Regions from separate parts of the Homo sapiens genome. Here region 1 is linked to region 2. A link means that fine-mapping ties the variant in region 2 to the expression of a gene that starts in the linked region. Tissue or cell type: liver. Region 2 holds a variant in brackets; the other region holds the start of a gene. All regions are shown on one strand. Distances are between the middles of the regions.

The links. PIP is the estimated chance that this variant, and not a neighbour inherited with it, causes the effect.
Region 1: it holds the start of TACC1, and the variant in region 2 is fine-mapped to the expression of TACC1 in liver (GTEx, PIP above 0.99).

The regions. Positions count from the first base shown.
Region 1 is chr8:38,783,181-38,791,281 of GRCh38, reverse strand. It overlaps TACC1 (transforming acidic coiled-coil containing protein 1), which reads right to left and starts at 4,046. Exons shown (of 13, transcript NM_006283.3): 1 at 3,539-4,046; 2 at 2,463-2,578. The coding sequence starts at 3,699. RefSeq lists a silencer at 3,783-4,322 and an enhancer at 4,363-4,442.
Region 2 is chr8:38,730,602-38,738,702 of GRCh38, reverse strand. It overlaps a transcript of TACC1 not described here. Among named protein-coding and RNA genes, the nearest start is that of TACC1, 53 kb to the left of the region's middle. RefSeq lists enhancers at 2,715-3,214, 3,795-4,294. The variant T/C (reference allele first, on the strand shown) is at 4,086.

The sequences.
Region 1 (8,101 bases), 53 kb before region 2:
AAAAGTTTTCCTTTTAGAGAGAATGAAAAAAATGTGAGAGTCACTGGTACAGGAAGGACCAAACAATTGGGTCTCTGTGGTTTTGGGGGCCTAGGTCATCCAGGCCTCTATTCAATTGGCAAAGAATCTGGCGGGATGAATCAGTCTAGCAGCTGACAAAACGATGAGGAAGGGCCGCCCAAGCTGATGGCAATTCAAAAAGGCTTTCAAACAGCTCCTTAACATGTGTCTTATGAGCTTTATTTAAATTTGATGGAAAGGCCACCAAATAGTTCTTTCAAGCTTCAAAATCTCCCTTCTGATCTGCCAATCTTTACGGAAGAAAAGGGAAGCTATGAGGAATAAGTGTTATCTTCATCACTGAGAGTGCTACACAGCTATGCGTCGCACACAAATTCTCCAGTATATAAGCTTGCCTATTCCCATGTTGTCCCTGCCTAGAACAATGGCAAAATGCAGCCTAGGGCAAGTTGAGGGTATTGCTGAATTCTCAGCTGGGTAAGCACAGCATGGAGCTATCAATTTAAAGCAAAACCAAATCAGCTTTTTGCTGATGTCATTTTACCAATAATTCCAGCTCCATCATGCAGTCTATTACCAGAGTAACTTGACTTCCCTAGGCAACCTACGAAGAAGTTGCTAAGCAATAAAAATACTTATTAGGGAGAGGAGAAAGTCACAATCAGCACAAAGTTTAGGTAGCTAGATAACTGAAAGCTGGCGCTGCCACTTCAGGGTGACAGTGCCAGATACTGGAACAGAGAAACCACATAAAAAGGACTTCCATCCTAGAGTCCCTTCTCCACACAGCAGCCCAGGGAGCCTTTTACAAAAGAAGCTGAATCACAATCCCTCTGTTCAAAGCTCTCTGTTGTGGGCTGAATTATGTCTCTCAAAATGATATGTTAAAGTCCCAACTCCTAGTACCTATGAATGTGACCTTATCTAGAAATAGTATCTCTGAAGATGTTACCAAGTTAAGATGAGGTCAAACTGGATTAGGGTGGGCCCTAACTTCAACGACTGGTGTCCTCACAGGAAGGGCACGGTAAGACAGATACATAGGGAGAAGATGGCCATGTGTTGAGACAGAGACTGGAGTTCTGCTGCCACAAGCCAAAGAACACAAAGGATTGCAGACACCCAGCAGAGGCTAGAAGAGGCAAGGACAGACTTCCTGGAGCCTTCAGAAGAGCAAGGCCCTGCCAACACCTTGACTTGAGACTTCTGGTTCTGATTTCAATTATCCAGGACTGTGAGAGAATAATTTCTGTTATTGTAAGCCGCTAAGTTACTCTGTTATGGCAGCCCTTGGAAATGCATATGCCCTCCAGTGGCTTTCCACCTTACTGAAAACCAAATCCTCACTGCAGCAGCATCTGGACCTCCTCTGACCACGCTGACTTCAGCTCCTCCTGCTCTCTGAGTAGTCAGTCCACACTGACCTCCTGGCTGGTCCTCAAACTGTACCATGAACCCTCCACCTTACGGCCTCCCTGCAGCAGGCTGGTGCTGTCAGACCTTTGCAGATGCCACTCCTTCTGCTGGAAGGGTTCCCACCTCAGGAACCTCCAAGGCCTGCTCCCTCAATCTGCCTTCAGGTCTCTGTTCAAGTCACCTAATCATGAATGCCCCCACTAACTCCCCTTCAGCCTTCCCTATCCCCACTCCATATTCCCTATTCTCTTCCCCTGCTTTATTTTTCTCCACAGTGCTTCACACAAGCTGACATAGATATTTTGCTTAACCCTTCACAGGTTCTCCCTCCACAATGTTAGCTCGAGAGAGCAGGACTTCACTGCTGAATCACAGTGCACTCTATTTAGTAAATAAGCATATGAATTCTGTTGGGATAGGTGAAATTTTATTCTGAACTGGCTGTGTGACAAAAAAGGTTTCTACTAATTAAGTGAGACAACGGAAGCTCCTGCAGATGAAGGGCTGGGCTCTGAGGGGCTGGGAGGGAATCCATGTGCCAGGTTTTCCTAAGTAGACTGAAGGGCTCTCACCACATCCCTGCATGGAAGTGGGCGAGGTGAGTGATTCCGAAAAAGCCTCTTAAGAACCTCCCTATCAAAAATTAAGTCAAGTCTTACCTGTAATTTTTGTCTCCAGCCACACCCCAGTAGAAAGCAACTTAGCCTGAGGAATTTGTGAAGTCAAATATAAACATGATCTTCCTACTTCATTACTATACATATTTTTTTAGGGGCTGAGGAGAAAGGCCTAGTAGGAATGTTTGATAATGATAATCTTATACTGCAAATGCACAAACTCTACTCAGAGGAGAAAGCCTCGATCACCACACCCCTAAAAATACATAAGCCAGGAGGTTTCAAACAGCTCTTTCTTAGTCAAACTCTCTTAAATGGTCCTAAATTTACACTTTTTTCCTTCCTTCATTGATATTTTTCAAAACTTTTGAAACAAAACAGGCAGGAAAAATGCAAGTTTTTCTTTACCTTGGCTTTTGGCCCCAGGTCCTGCCAATCCGAGTGATGGATCACAGGACTCCTTGAAAGGTGATCGGATCGGGGTTTCAGCTTCAGGAGTCTCAAAATTACCTTCAGAATCCGAGCTGCCAAGGAGGAAAAATGAGGAATTACCACTTTCAACGGTATTTCCGACACCCTTTGAAATCTACATATTCACAGAGGCTAAAAGTCCAGCACTTTTGTCTAACTTCACAACCAACCGGTCCTCAGCAGGGTCTGACCTGCGGGAGGCAACTGCGGTCTCTGAGCAGTGCCCTCCTTGGGTTTCTCAGGCTGGCATCCTGTCTCTCTGAAAGCTCCTCCATTCCCTGGAGCTTTTCTCCAGCACCATTTATTTTCGAGGTCATCCTTCCCTCAGACACCTGAAAAATGCGCTTTTCCAACAGACTCCTTTTGTCACAAGAGCCCTTTCCCAGAGGCTTTAACAATTAATACTGGTCCCACCCCCGAGTTAGGCCGATGCTAGGCATTCCTCTTTGCTCGGTAGGCCTCTACCTGCTGGAACTCCCTGGGCCCGAGGCTAAGAATGGTGTCACCTGCCTTCCGCAATCACGCGGATGACAGCCCGGCAGAGACCACCATTTCCCAGCAGCTGCCAGGGGCCTGTCATCACGCGACCTTCTTCACCGCGGCTGCGTTTTGGGTACACGGTAGGGCCCCGGGAAGGGCCGGGGAGCGACTTCTTCCCCACGGGGGGGCCCTAAGTTGCACTGGGTTAGATCAGTGACGTTGCTCCAGTGTGGAGGGGCGGGGGCTGGGGGTCGAAGCTTAGAGAAAGTGACCGAGGCCAGCGGGGATGCGGAGAGACTGCAGATTCTGGGTTGGGTGCGGAACTCTCCTAGCGAAACGGGGGCCAGAAACCCCACGGGAGGACAGAAGATCCTGAACTTTCGGACGCACACGGGGACCCGGCTCCGGGCAGGGACGCGGCACGGCCGTGAGGACGGTTTCGCGGGTGGCGACCACACACACGCACACAGAGGGAGTCGCAGATGGATGGAGGCAAGCGCGTCTGCATCTCAGCGGGGACGCCGTGTACTTGCCTGAAACTCAAGGATTTGGTCTCGGCTTGCGAATCCTCCTCCTCGGGGTCGCCCTCGGGCCCGCCAGCCTCGTCCTCGCCGGCGGCCCCGCCGCGTACCGCAGACCACGTCCATTTCGCCCACTGCACGGGGGACAGGATCTGCCACGGGCTGAACGCCATGAGCGCGGCTCCTCCGGCTCCAGCTCCTAGGGGCAGGGGAATGGGTGGGGAGAGCCTTTTTCCCTTTCAAAATGGAGGGAACCGGTGACAGGCGCCAGCAAGCGTTTCCAGCAGAGGCGCGGATGTGGTTAAACGAGTGCCGTCGGGGGCCCTGGTGGAGCGCTTCCTCCCGCCGGCAGCCGGCGCTGCGTCCTCCTCGGCCTCCTCCCCTCACGGTGCGGCCGCAGCGGGCCCCGCGCCGGGCTCCACTAGCCGGGAAGACGCCCGTCCTGTGGCCTCCTCAGGCCCCCGGCCCGCGGCGCCCGGCTGCTAGACCTCTGCTGCTCCCGCTCCCGGCTCGCGGACTCCCGCCTCCCGGCCGGCGGGGCGCGCATCAGCTGCCGCCGGAGCCGCGCCCCAGAAGCCGCCCCCTCGGACCGTACTACTCGCGCGCGCGCGCGGGGGCGGCGGCGGCGCCGGGGCTTTGAAGACGGCCGCGCGCCCGCCGGATCCCCCTACCGCGGCGTCACGCTGGTCGCGGCCCGACTGAGGGCCGGGGCTTGCCGGCTGCGCGGGGAGATTCGGTCATACCCCACAGGTCCGCCGGCGTCCGGGGCAGAGGAGGACCGTTTTCTGAGCCGGGGCACGCTGTCCTCTTCCTCTTTCCTTATTCCTTTTTAAAATTTTTTTAAACATTTTCATCTTGCCACTGTGACTTCACGGCGATGGTGATATTGGACTGCACACAAGCCCCTTGTTACCAAAAAAAAAAAAATACAAACCTTCGCGGCCGCTGTGGACTGTTGTTTTCCCCTCCCTAACCCTGGCAGCGTGGGGGATTTCAGCCTGTTCATCTCCATCCCTGGCATTCCCGGGATTTGAAAATCCCTTGGCAAAGCCACAAGAGTGACCGAGGACTGGAATTTAAGATGCCCTCCCCCTCCCCAAACCGCACTCGGGGAGGCTTCCCAAGTGCCCAGGTCTTGTCTTAGGTAAAGGGTACTAAATTCCCTGTGAGATTACAGCCTGATGGGTTTCCCATTCTCCATATTTATTTATTTAAAATACAGACAGGCGTCTCGATATGTTGCCCAGGCTGGTCTTGAACTCTTGGCCACAAGCGATCCTCCCGCCTCTGCCTCCCAAAATGCTAGGATTCCAGGCCTGACACCGCGCCTGACCCCATTCTCCTTTTTGAGATTTTCTTTTCGTAACTTCTAAGTCTTTGATTTCTGACTTATTTCGCTGCTTCAGTAACAAGCCAAGAGGCCTGGCGACATCTTTAGGTTTGAAGGCAATGGGAAATAGCTGATGTTCTCCATTTCCCATGGAGGGATTTCATGTAGGGATTGTTCCTCTCAAAACCACCAAAGCACCTTCTTCCAAGTGAATCGATTGCCTCAAACACCAGGCTTAATGATCTCCTTGCCTGGATAAGGTGTTCCAGGTGGTACTGTAATTTCCGAGTTGTGGTGCATCCATGAGGTGCCTGCAGGTTCCCACAGAGACAGCAGCTCCAAAATGTGCACGTTGAAACTTGCAAGAGACTAACCGTTGCCTCTGAAAGCAGTTGGCATGTATATTCATCGTGACTGTTTTACACATTTGATAACAAAAACAGGAGCAAAATACAAGATAAGGCTTGGCAGGGTAGTTTTACCAAAACCGAAGGGCAGGAGTTAACCTGAAGTCTAGAGAAAAGAAAGGGGTGGGGTGTCAGGATGCTTTCGAATTCATCCTGGCTTCTTCCCAGAAATAAATTGTCATGAGTGTTCTAGCGACTATAAAGAAGTGAACTAGGCAGGAGGTCCATGTGAAATATATCACACCACTTATCCAACTGTTGTAGTTTTAGGTTTATGCTTACCCAGTAAAACTTCAGGTTCTACAGTCCCCCAGGCTCCTGGATTTGACACAGGGTTCTGTTTCTGGGAAATAATATTACCCCAGCAAATCAGTAACTAGCATACACTAGGACCTGTTCTTCCTCCTGAATAGTTCTCTTATCTTTTCATTCCTTTGCATCCCTGTGGTGACTGACATAGTTCCCGCACTCCCCATCTTTCATGATCTACTGTAAATAACTCCCACCTGGTTTTACCTCTGAAGGTTTTCTTGCCTGAGGTCACCCCTGCCTGGCTGATCAGTGACTCGTGCTCTAATCTTTCGGTTCCCATTCCCCTCTATGCCCATCCTTTTGTATTCCTAGCCACAGTGAGTAGAGAACTCGTTGTCAATCTTTAATATGCCCAAGAATCATCCGCCAGCCTTCTTAAAAAAATCCAAATTGCCAGCAGAGTCTGGAAATCTGTGTGTTCACTAAGTGTCCTGGGGAACTGTTATCACAGGGTAAATTTGGGAAACAGTGCCTAGCTTGAACCAACTGCTTACTGCTTCGGGAACAGTCTCCCTTTGCCTGCAGAGGGAGCTTTGCGAATTCCTGGAACACACCTCCTCCCCCACCCCAGCCCACCCCAAGTTCCCAGGCTTCAGCTGCTCGAACGTCCTTCAGCACTTAGCTCAAGTGTCTACAGGGGGAAGCAGGCTCATTGTCCTTCCTTTCTATCATTTCTATACCCCGAACATCCATAAAGAACACTTCCTGTGGCCTTAGATCTGAAAGTGAAAGACAGCATTCTTAATAGTTACACAGGGACTATAGGCATAAACCAGGACTGTCTCCAGAAGACCAGGATGTAAGGCCATTCTACACTTAGCACACCATATATAACATATTTATTTACATATCTGTCCCACAAGCTTCTAAAGGGACTTTACCCCCCTTTGGGACTTCCTCCAGAAATTAGGACAGAACCACACACTCAGTAGGTGTTCAATATATATGTAAGAAAAAACAAACATTCTAGTTTACAAATAGTCCTTGTGAGTTTGGCTAAGGTGACATAAATTCCTAAAGCCTGACTCCCCCTGGGGAAATCTAGTTTCTGGGCCAGAAAATAACAGAACCCAGGACCAAGTGATGGCCCCAGTAAGATTAAGCCTCACCTATGCAGCAATTTACTTTTTTTTTTTTTTGAGATGGAGTCTCACTCTGTCACCCAGGCTGGAGCACGGTGGTGCAGTCTCAGCTGACTGCAACCTCCGCCTCCTGGGTTCAAGCGATTCTCCCTGCCTCAGCCTCCCAAGTAGCTGGGATTACAGGTTCCTGCCACCATGCCCAGCTAATTTTTTTATTTTTTAGTAGAGACGGGGTTTCATCATGTTGGCCAGGCTGGTCTTGAACTCCTGACCTCAGGTGATCCACCCACTTCCAAAGTTCTGGGATTATAGGTGTGAGCCACCGCACCCGGCCTGCAGCAACTTCTTGAGACTGGACTAGCAAATAAATGCCTAAGGTTTCTGAAAATCACTCCTCTGCAAGTTCTTGAACTTAGTGTAAGCAGTAATGAATATGAGTCCATTAGCTGGACCACTCCTCTCAGTCTGCTGCTCCTAGTCCTGGCTTCGTTCTTACCTGGTACAGGTTGCAAAGTCACAACTAGGAACACTCTAGCCCTGTCAGTGAAGACGTGCCATTGCCAACAGGAGGCTGTGGCCACCCTATCTGCTTTTCTGCCCTACCTCAGTCTAACCAGGCAAGGGCATGATGATGTCTAATCAAGACAACATTGCCAATAACAGCATCTGACCGCATTCAAATATGTTAACATGACAGTCTTAACCTTGCAAGATCAGATATTTACCTAATTATCCTTTACCTGTAGACTACAAACATCTATAGAATTACAATCTTCCCTCCACTACCCAAACACCGAAATCAGGACTGTGTACAATGCATTTATACAGAAAATTATAAAGAGAAGCTCCTTTCTAATTTTTTAAAAGAGAGGTGTCAGGGTATGTTCATAGCTAATACTCTTTCAGGCTGGGTGCGGTGGCTCATGCCTGCAATCCCACACTTTGGGAGGCCAAGGCAGGCAGATCACTTAAGGTCAGGAGTATGAGACCAGCCTGGCCAACATGGTGAAACTCCATCTCTACTAAGAATATAAAAATAGCCAGGTGTGGTGGCAGGCGCCTGTAATTCCAGCTACTCGGGAGGCTGAGGCAGGAGAATCACTTGAACCGGGGAGGCAGAGATTGCGGTGAGCCGAGATCATGCCACTGTACTTCAGCCTGGGCAACAGAGTGAGACTCCATCTCAAAAAAAAAAAAAAGAAAATACTCTTTCAGAGTTCCAGGAAGATTAACAAAGATCCAAACTGCATTTATTAAAGACTTGGCTGAGCCCCCCACCTGGGGTCTGCTGAAAGACCCTTGCCCAGACTTTGCTCTGGTGAACAACTCTTGTCATATCCACCCATTGATCTGTTTTCTTCTGTATCACAGAAGAAAAGTTTGCTTTCCCCAGGAAGTATACCATTCAACCTAGGTCACAGGTCAAACCTATAGCAGAACTGCC
Region 2 (8,101 bases):
AGTATCTTGTAGAACCAGAAGGTTAAAAAAAAAAAAAGTGCTCAAAACACAAATACAACACCAAGACCCACAATAATGGGGTCTAGCAAAGGGACACAGAAGCCAAATGAGAGAGCGCTCAATGGGCGAAGCTGGAACAATTTGAGCAACAAGATTAATAAATCAGTATTTGATTACAACTCAAAGTATTAAAAGAAATCCACAAGCCCCTACAAATATAAGTTAGTGATTAAACAAATAAATAAATGAAGAGAAGAGACAAATGTCCATGATGGAATTCCAAATAATTTATGTAGCCAGGCATGGTGGCTCACACCTATAATTCCAGCACTTTGGGAAGCCGAGGCTCCACTGTAGCCTCGAACTCCCAGGCTCAAGAGATCCTCCTGCCTGAGCCTACCAAGTAGCTGGGACTACAGGCACTTGCCACCACGCCCGACTAATTTTTTTTTTTAATGTTTTGGAGAGATGGGGGTGTCTCACTATATTGCCCAGGCTGGTCTTGAACTCCTAGCGTCAAGGGCTCCTCCTGCCTCAGCCTCCCAAAGTGTTGGGATTAAAGGTGTGAGCCACCACACCTAGCCTCTTCTAATCTTCACAAAAATTGTGCTCTGTGAGTCAGGAACTACAGGAAGATCTCTAGAATATCATTACCTCCCTTAAAGAATGGTTCCCAGGCCGGGCGCAGTGACTCATGCCTATAATCCCAGCACTTTGGGAGGCTGAGGCGGGCAGATCACCTGAGGTCAGAAGTTTGAGACGAGGCTGACCAACATGGAGAAACCCCATCTCTACTAAAAATACAAAATTAGCCAGGCATGGAGGCACATGCTTGTAATCCCAGCTACTTTGGAGGCTGAGGCAGGAGAATCGCTTGAACCCAGGAGGCAGAGGTTGCGGTGAGCCGAGATCGCACCATTGCACTCCAGCCTGGGCAACAAGAACGAAACTCCATCTCAAAAAAAAAAAAAAGAATGGCTCCCAATCTGAGCTCTATTGTCTAGATGGGATCTGGACAGAGGGACTGTTGTCTTTTCTGCATATTCTTCTATCACCATGCCCTATTTGGGAGGTGGGTTTGCTCAAGCAGCAGTGAGGCAATGCTGTTCCTGGTGTTCTCCAGCCAGGGACCATCACACTGGCCAGTGCTGAGATAAGGAGCCTGTGGCAGAAGGTAAGCCAGTTACCTCACTAAGCACTGCTGCTCCCCTGCCTGGCCTCCACAGCAAGATTTTCTCCATGAAGGAAGCTGGATGTAGATTTCTGTTCCAGCCCAGTCTCCTGATCTCATCGAGAACTGGCACTGTGAGTGGCACTGAGCGAAGCCACTGTCCCCAGTGTTGTTTCTTCTTTCATGCTGCATCACAGACTTGACATCGAGTACATTCCCACTGCCTTTCAGTAAATGAAACTATTGGGGGTAGAATTCCTACAAAGAATTCTCACAGATGCTGGGGAGGAGGCCAGTTGGTGGGAAGGCGTGATAGGGAGGCACGGAGGAGAAGTCCTTAGATTGAGTGCCAAGACTTCTGTTTTAGTCCGGGCCTTGTCACTGACCAGCGGCGGATAAGGAAATTCCCACATCAGGACTAATTTTCCCCACCTGGTAAAGGAGGTGGCTGAGCTAGGTCATTTCTTAGGGCCTCCCAATTCTTGACCTCTAGGATCCAACCCTTGAGTCAAATGACTTCCATGCCCTAAATGTCCCCACGCTGGGCCCTTCCACAATTTTTGTGTCCTCATCGCGGCCCACTATGTTGTCTTCTCTGAGTGCTTTGCCTGGTAACAAATCAGCTGGCTTCAGAATGGGACCATCACAATGATATCTGGCTGCCAGACAAAAAGATAAGAGAATTAGAGAGTATGGAGCTGAACAGAATCCTCAAAAATGTGTCTGCCCCCAGAGACTGGTCACTACTTTTGTCAAGCATGAAGGTATCCATAAATGTGTGCCATTAGAGATGTCCTGAAGGAACTCTGATGTGCCTCTCTCACCCTCTGCCAGAGGCTGAATAATGACTTCAAATTTATCAGGTCCCAATCTCTGGAACCTGTAAAGGTTATCATTATCTTATTCTTTTGTTTTGGAGACAGAGTCATGCTCTGTTGCCCAGGCTGGAGTGCAGTGGTGCAATCATAGCTTCCTGCAGCCTTGACCTCCTGAGCTCAAGCGATCCTCCTACCTCAGCCTTCCAAGTAGCTGGGACTACAGGCGTGTGCTACCATGCCCGGGTAATTTTTTTATTTTTTGTAGAGACAGGGGTCTCACTGTGTTGCCCAGGCTAATCTTGAACTCCTGGGCTCAAGCAATCCTCCTTCTTCGGCCTCCCAAAGCACTGGGATTATAGGCATGAGCCACCACACAGGCATGAGCCACAGTGCCCAGCCAGGTTATCTTATTTGGAACAATGTTTTATTATTTGTAAATATCTTACTGTATTTGCTAATGTGATGAAATTAAGGATTTCTGAGAGAGGGAGACTATCCTGAATTATCTGGGTGGGCCTTAAATGCAACCCCAAGCATCATTATACAAGAGAGGCAAAGGAAGATTTCATACACACAGTGTCACCACGGAGGTCAACATCAAAAGGACATGGCCACAAGCCAAGGAATGCTGGCAGCCACCAGACACCAAAGGAGGCAAGGGACAAGGACCAGATGATTTCCTGGAGCCACTGGAGGGAGTACCGGCCGGTAGACCCCAGTTTTCTCCTCCAGAACTGGGAGAGAATGCATTTCTGGTTTTGTTCTGTTTTAAGCTACCAAGTTCGTGGTCATTAGTTAGAGCAGCCACAGGAAACTAACACACCCTCTTCCTAAATTTCAGGGACATCTTCCTTTCCTACAGATTTTCTCTTTTATGCTAACAAACAAAGCCACCTGTCAGGTGGGTCAGGATCCATTCTTTCAGTCAGGAGCCCAGCAGGTAACACTCTCTCTTTGACTTGAGGGTTTAATAAAGGGACCATTTACAAAGGTCTGAGGAGGGTTTGGGAGGCCACAGGAGACAGCAGCGTAGCCCAGGGCTGCCCACTGTAGGAGATGCTGTCACTGCCTTAGGCCTGAAGGGTCAGGGGAGAGAGCTGAGTGCAGGGGGTGGTTGCTGACAGGAGTCCTGGCCTTCAGTCAGCGGACACCACCAGCCCATGGAAGCAGCGGGAAAGGAAGAAGTGGACTAAATCCTCCATGACACACTCCCCTCCCTCTAAACCTACCTGCAGGTGCCCTCCTCTGGCTAAATCTACCCGGAAGCCAGATGTAAGGGTGCCAGTCTGGCCAGCCTCCCAGGCACAGCGCGGGTGGAAAACGGTGGAGAGTGATTTCTAAGGCCAAATGGAAAAATCCAGCACCCATGTAACTTTAGCTTCCTCTCAAGACTCTCCACACAACCAGTTTGGTTTCAAGAAATAGAAGGACCCCTGGACCTTGCTCTGTGACCCAAGGCAACTCCCCACCTGTCTTAAGCCTCATTTTCCAAAGCTGTGAAATGAAGGGTTTCGAATAGAGAGTAAGATCCCTTTCAGCTCTGGTGCTCATGATTCTAAAAGCAGATCTCATGCTTTTTCCCAGGCTCTGCTGATGCGTGCCTCAAGTCCTGACAGCTGTGTATGAACTAAGATGCATCTATTCAGGCCTCTCTTTTCCATGACGTATCCTTGCATCTGAACAAGCACGTGTGGTGCCTGCTGGAAATCCAGCCACTCCAAGGAAGAGAGCAGGCTGTGTTCTCACGTGGTATGCAGACACACACAAGTGTGCTGGAAAAGGAAACGTGAGACTATGAAAACCAGACCGGCCCTGGAGAGCCAGCTGTGAGAGACAAGGAGACAGGCCTAAGGCAAGCCACTCCCCGCCAGCCTGCGTCAGCAGGCCGCAGGCACCCTTGCTTGTTCCTGCAGGAAACTCAAGGGGGCATCGCAGCTAACTATGGCTAGTGCAGCCCTCAGGCTGGCCAGCAACGCGACTGCCAGGCCCGGCAGGCCAAGCAAAGCCTCGGCTGCCAGCAGCCATGCAGATGGTAATGATTAACCCGAAAGTCAAACTATGGAAAGTTCCAAGGGCCAGGAGAGTCCTTTGTTGCA[T/C]AATAAACATACCAAGCCCTCCCTGCTACCTTGGGGCATTTTGTTCTGTATCGTGTCTGCTTTTGCAACTCTTCCTTTCTGCTTGTATCTGCCTGGAACCTCATTTTAAAAACACAGGCTTATGGCCAGGCGTGTGGCTCATACCTATAACCTCAGCACTTTGGGAGGCCAACGAGGGCGGATCACCTGAGGTCAGAAGTTCAAGACCAGCCTGCCTGGCCAACATGGTGAAACCCCGTCTCTACCAAAACTACAAAAATTAGCTGGTGTGGTGGCAGGTGCCTGTAATCCCAGCTACTCAGGAGGCTGAGGCAGGAGAATCGCTTGAACCTGTGAGGCGGAGGTTGCAGTGAGTCGAGATCACACCACTGCACTCCAGCATGGGTGACAGAGCAAGACTCTGTCTAGAAAAAACAAACAAACAAACAGGCTGAAACTAAAGAAGAAGGTATCTGGTATCTTCATTGCCTCTAGAAGACTGAAAGTGCAGAAGATGTGGAAGCCCTCCCCTCTTTGCCATCCCCAAAATCTTGGGAGGCCTGGGATGAGCAACAGGTTTCCCTTCCTTTCCCCAGTTCCCCATACTTATTAAACTAGGACCCTGCGCAATGACTGATGGGCCATGAATGAGAACGGTTTACAGTGCATTATTTGAGGCAGGGACGTCTAAGGAGGACCCGAATTCCAACATTTTAAAAAACTCTCCCAGAACTGCTGATTCCTAAATTCCATTGTCCTCTTGTTTCCAGCAAAATAATTTGATTCTTGTTATAAACACGCCCATGCTTGGCCAGTGTGCGTTTTAAGGTTGTCCCGTGAATTAAGAGCCTCGAGGCTTTCCTGGAGGTGAGGAAGGAAGGGGAGCCTGGGAGAGGCTGGGAATGGGGTGGGAGAGGGGCCACCAAGAAAAAGGACAGAGGGAGAGGGCTCTGGGCACCCAGGAAGAACATCACACCCGCTTCCTACTGCTGCCGGGTGCTGTCCCTGCTGAGCTGGTGCTAGGAATTGTTCTGAAAATTCAGGTAAGCAGCCTCCTATGAAGGAACACAGCAAAAGCCTGCAGTCCGGACCTCAGACCATCAGAAAGGAGAGTGCCTTTCCCACCAGGGAACAGATAACTACAGTGGCATTTGGCCAGGGGTTTCCTGGGAATCTCCCTGCCCTAAGTGCATCTCCCCTAGTCACTGTCACACTGAAGCCTAAAAGTCCCCCAAGAGAGCTGCACCAGTGTATGAATTCATTGATTACTTTCAAACAGTTTGCTAAACATCAAGTGCTGGTTAAAGGGGGTTCTGATGGACCAAAAAAAAAAAAGAGGATCAATTCTGGATATGAGAGATGGAGGGTATTTATTGCAGAGCGGGGCTTGGTGGGAGTCCACAGCTGGGATCGTCTCTGTCTTGTTAGAGTGTGACTGAGATCTCTGGAAAAAAGAAAAAGATATCCCTGATATCTTGAGTGGCCTGGGATGAGCAGGGAAGCCTCTAGGAGAGCAGAGAGAAAGGTGAAGAAGGCAACTTGCTTCACGATTTTACCTACACCTGGAGCTGCCTGGAACAGTCTCCTTGCTCAGATGCAATTATGCCGTGCATCTCCTGTCCGGTGCCGAGTCTTCCAAACTCTGCTCTCCAAAATGTCTAAGTGTGTTTTGCCCACACTAGCGCTGTGCCCATGTTGCAAGAGTTATGACTCTTGTCCATCAGCTTCTATGTACAGTACTCTTCAAACAGACACAAATGGCTTAAGCCAGGAATTATTAGATTCACTAGAACTATAATGTTGGGTTTAAGCACTCATACCCAAATTAGATAGCCCTAAATTAGAATGCCAACTCCAATGCTTACGAGCTGTCTGCTTTTGTGCATTTTGTCTCCTTCTCTAAACCTTGCTATCGCTATTTGCAAACCGGGGATAATAATAGTATTCACCTGACAGGCGGCCATGAGGATTAAACAAATGAGGTGACGCAGGGGAAGCACTTAGCACAATGCCTGGGTCATAGTAAGTGCTCAGTCAATGTCAGCCATTGATTTATTTCTCATCTACTTCTACTTCAAGTAAAAGTTGGCAAACTAGTTTCAAGATCATTATACATGTAATCCAGACTCAGGCTGAGCTCACAAATTTGTTCTTTGAAAAAGCCACACAATTCTTTTGTAAGTCTTGATCTCCTGGGTTTTTTTTTGTTGTTGTTGTTGTTTTAAATCAGCTATATTTAGCTCTTAAATTTCATATCTCAGTTTGAAATCCTAAAGTCATCCTTCCAAAAATACAAGTGGTTCAGCAGATGGCATTGAAAAAAAAAACAAGAAAAAAACATATTTTTGCTTTATATAACATTAGGTCAGAGGTGGGACTCATTTCCACAACTACAAAGGTAAATAAATTACACTTATACCATTTTCTTTTCCTTTCCTTTCCTTTCCTTTCCCTCTTCCTTCCTTCCTTCCTTCCTTCCTTTCTTCTTTTCTTTTCTTTTCTTTCTTTTCTTTGTTGTTGTTATTTTGAGACAGAGTCTCGCTCTGTCACCCAGGCTGGAGTGCAGTGGTACAATCTTGGCTCACTGCAACCTCTGCCTCCTGGGCTTAAGCAATTCTCCTGCCTCAGCCTCTGGAGTAGCTGAGATTACAGGCACCTGGCACCACACCCAGCTAATTTCTGCATTTTTAGTAGAGATGGAGTTTCACCATGTTGGCCAGGCTGGTCTCAAACTCCTGGCCTCAAGTTATCTGTCTGCCTTGGCCTCCCAAAGTGCTGGGATTATAGGCATGAGCCACCACACCCAGCCTACACTTACTTCATTTAATGCAAGGATGTAATTTGGCAATGCCAACCCTAAAGACTAGTTTTGTTGTTGTTGTTGTTGTTGTTGTTGTTGTTTTCAGTTTTATCTCTGGGAGAACAGCTAAGCTCTTCCCTGAAGGTCCTAGGCTGTCTCCCAGGTTCCTTCCTAGCTGGGGTCCAAGCACAATCCTCCTCTCCCCAGCTCAAATTGAAATTACATTGCATTTGTTGGTGTGCATTTTATAGTTTCAAACACCAGTGACTTCATATTTCCAGACTGCTCCCAAACTACTTTTCCTTGGGTTAACACAACAACCTCTTTTACACATAACATATTTATTGAGTGTTTATCATATGCCAGATGCAATTCTAAATGCTTCATGTGGATTAACTAATCTTATCTTCATGATATCTTTGTGAAATAGGTACTGTTATTATCATCCTTCTCCAGAGGATATTATTTTGAAGAAACTGAGGCACACAGGTTTGTGTAATTTGCCCAAGATGACCAAGCTAAAATGTGACAGAGCTGAGATGTGAACCCAGGCACTCTGGCTACAGAGCCTGGCACTTTCCCATTGAACCTTACCACCTCGGTAGGGCACAGTGGCTCACGCCTGTAATCCTGACACTTTGGGCAGCTGAGGCAGGAGGATCGCTTGAGACCAGGAGTTCAAGACCAGCCTGGGCAACATAGGGAGACCCCCATCTCTACACAAAAATTAAAAAATTTAAAAAAATAGCCAGGCATAGTGGTGCATGCCTGTAGTTTCAGCTCCTGGGGAGGCTCAGGTGGGAGGATCACTTGAGCCCAGGAGGTTGAGGCTGCAGTGAGCTAGAACTAGGACTGTACCACTGCACTCCAGCCTGGATGACACAGCAAGACCCTGTATCTAAAAAATAAAACAAACAAACAAAAACTATACCACCTCTCAGAGAAAAAGTGATGTTTATCAGGGATACAGTTTGGACAAGAATTCTAACTCCACTTATTCTTAGGAGCACTCTTCCTTCCCACAGAACATTCCGTCCTGGCCCCGTGACCCTGCTCCTCCCAGCCTATTCTCAGGGGCATTCTTCGACAAAATACGAAAAAGCCACACTCACAACAATGTCCTTCTTACTTCTGTCAAACAGGGCTGCAAAAATATTCAAGGCAGTATGGCTCAGACTCAGGGGGAGGGGGCCCCAGCCCCACCTTCACCACTAAGTGGCAGGGTGCCCTCAAGCCA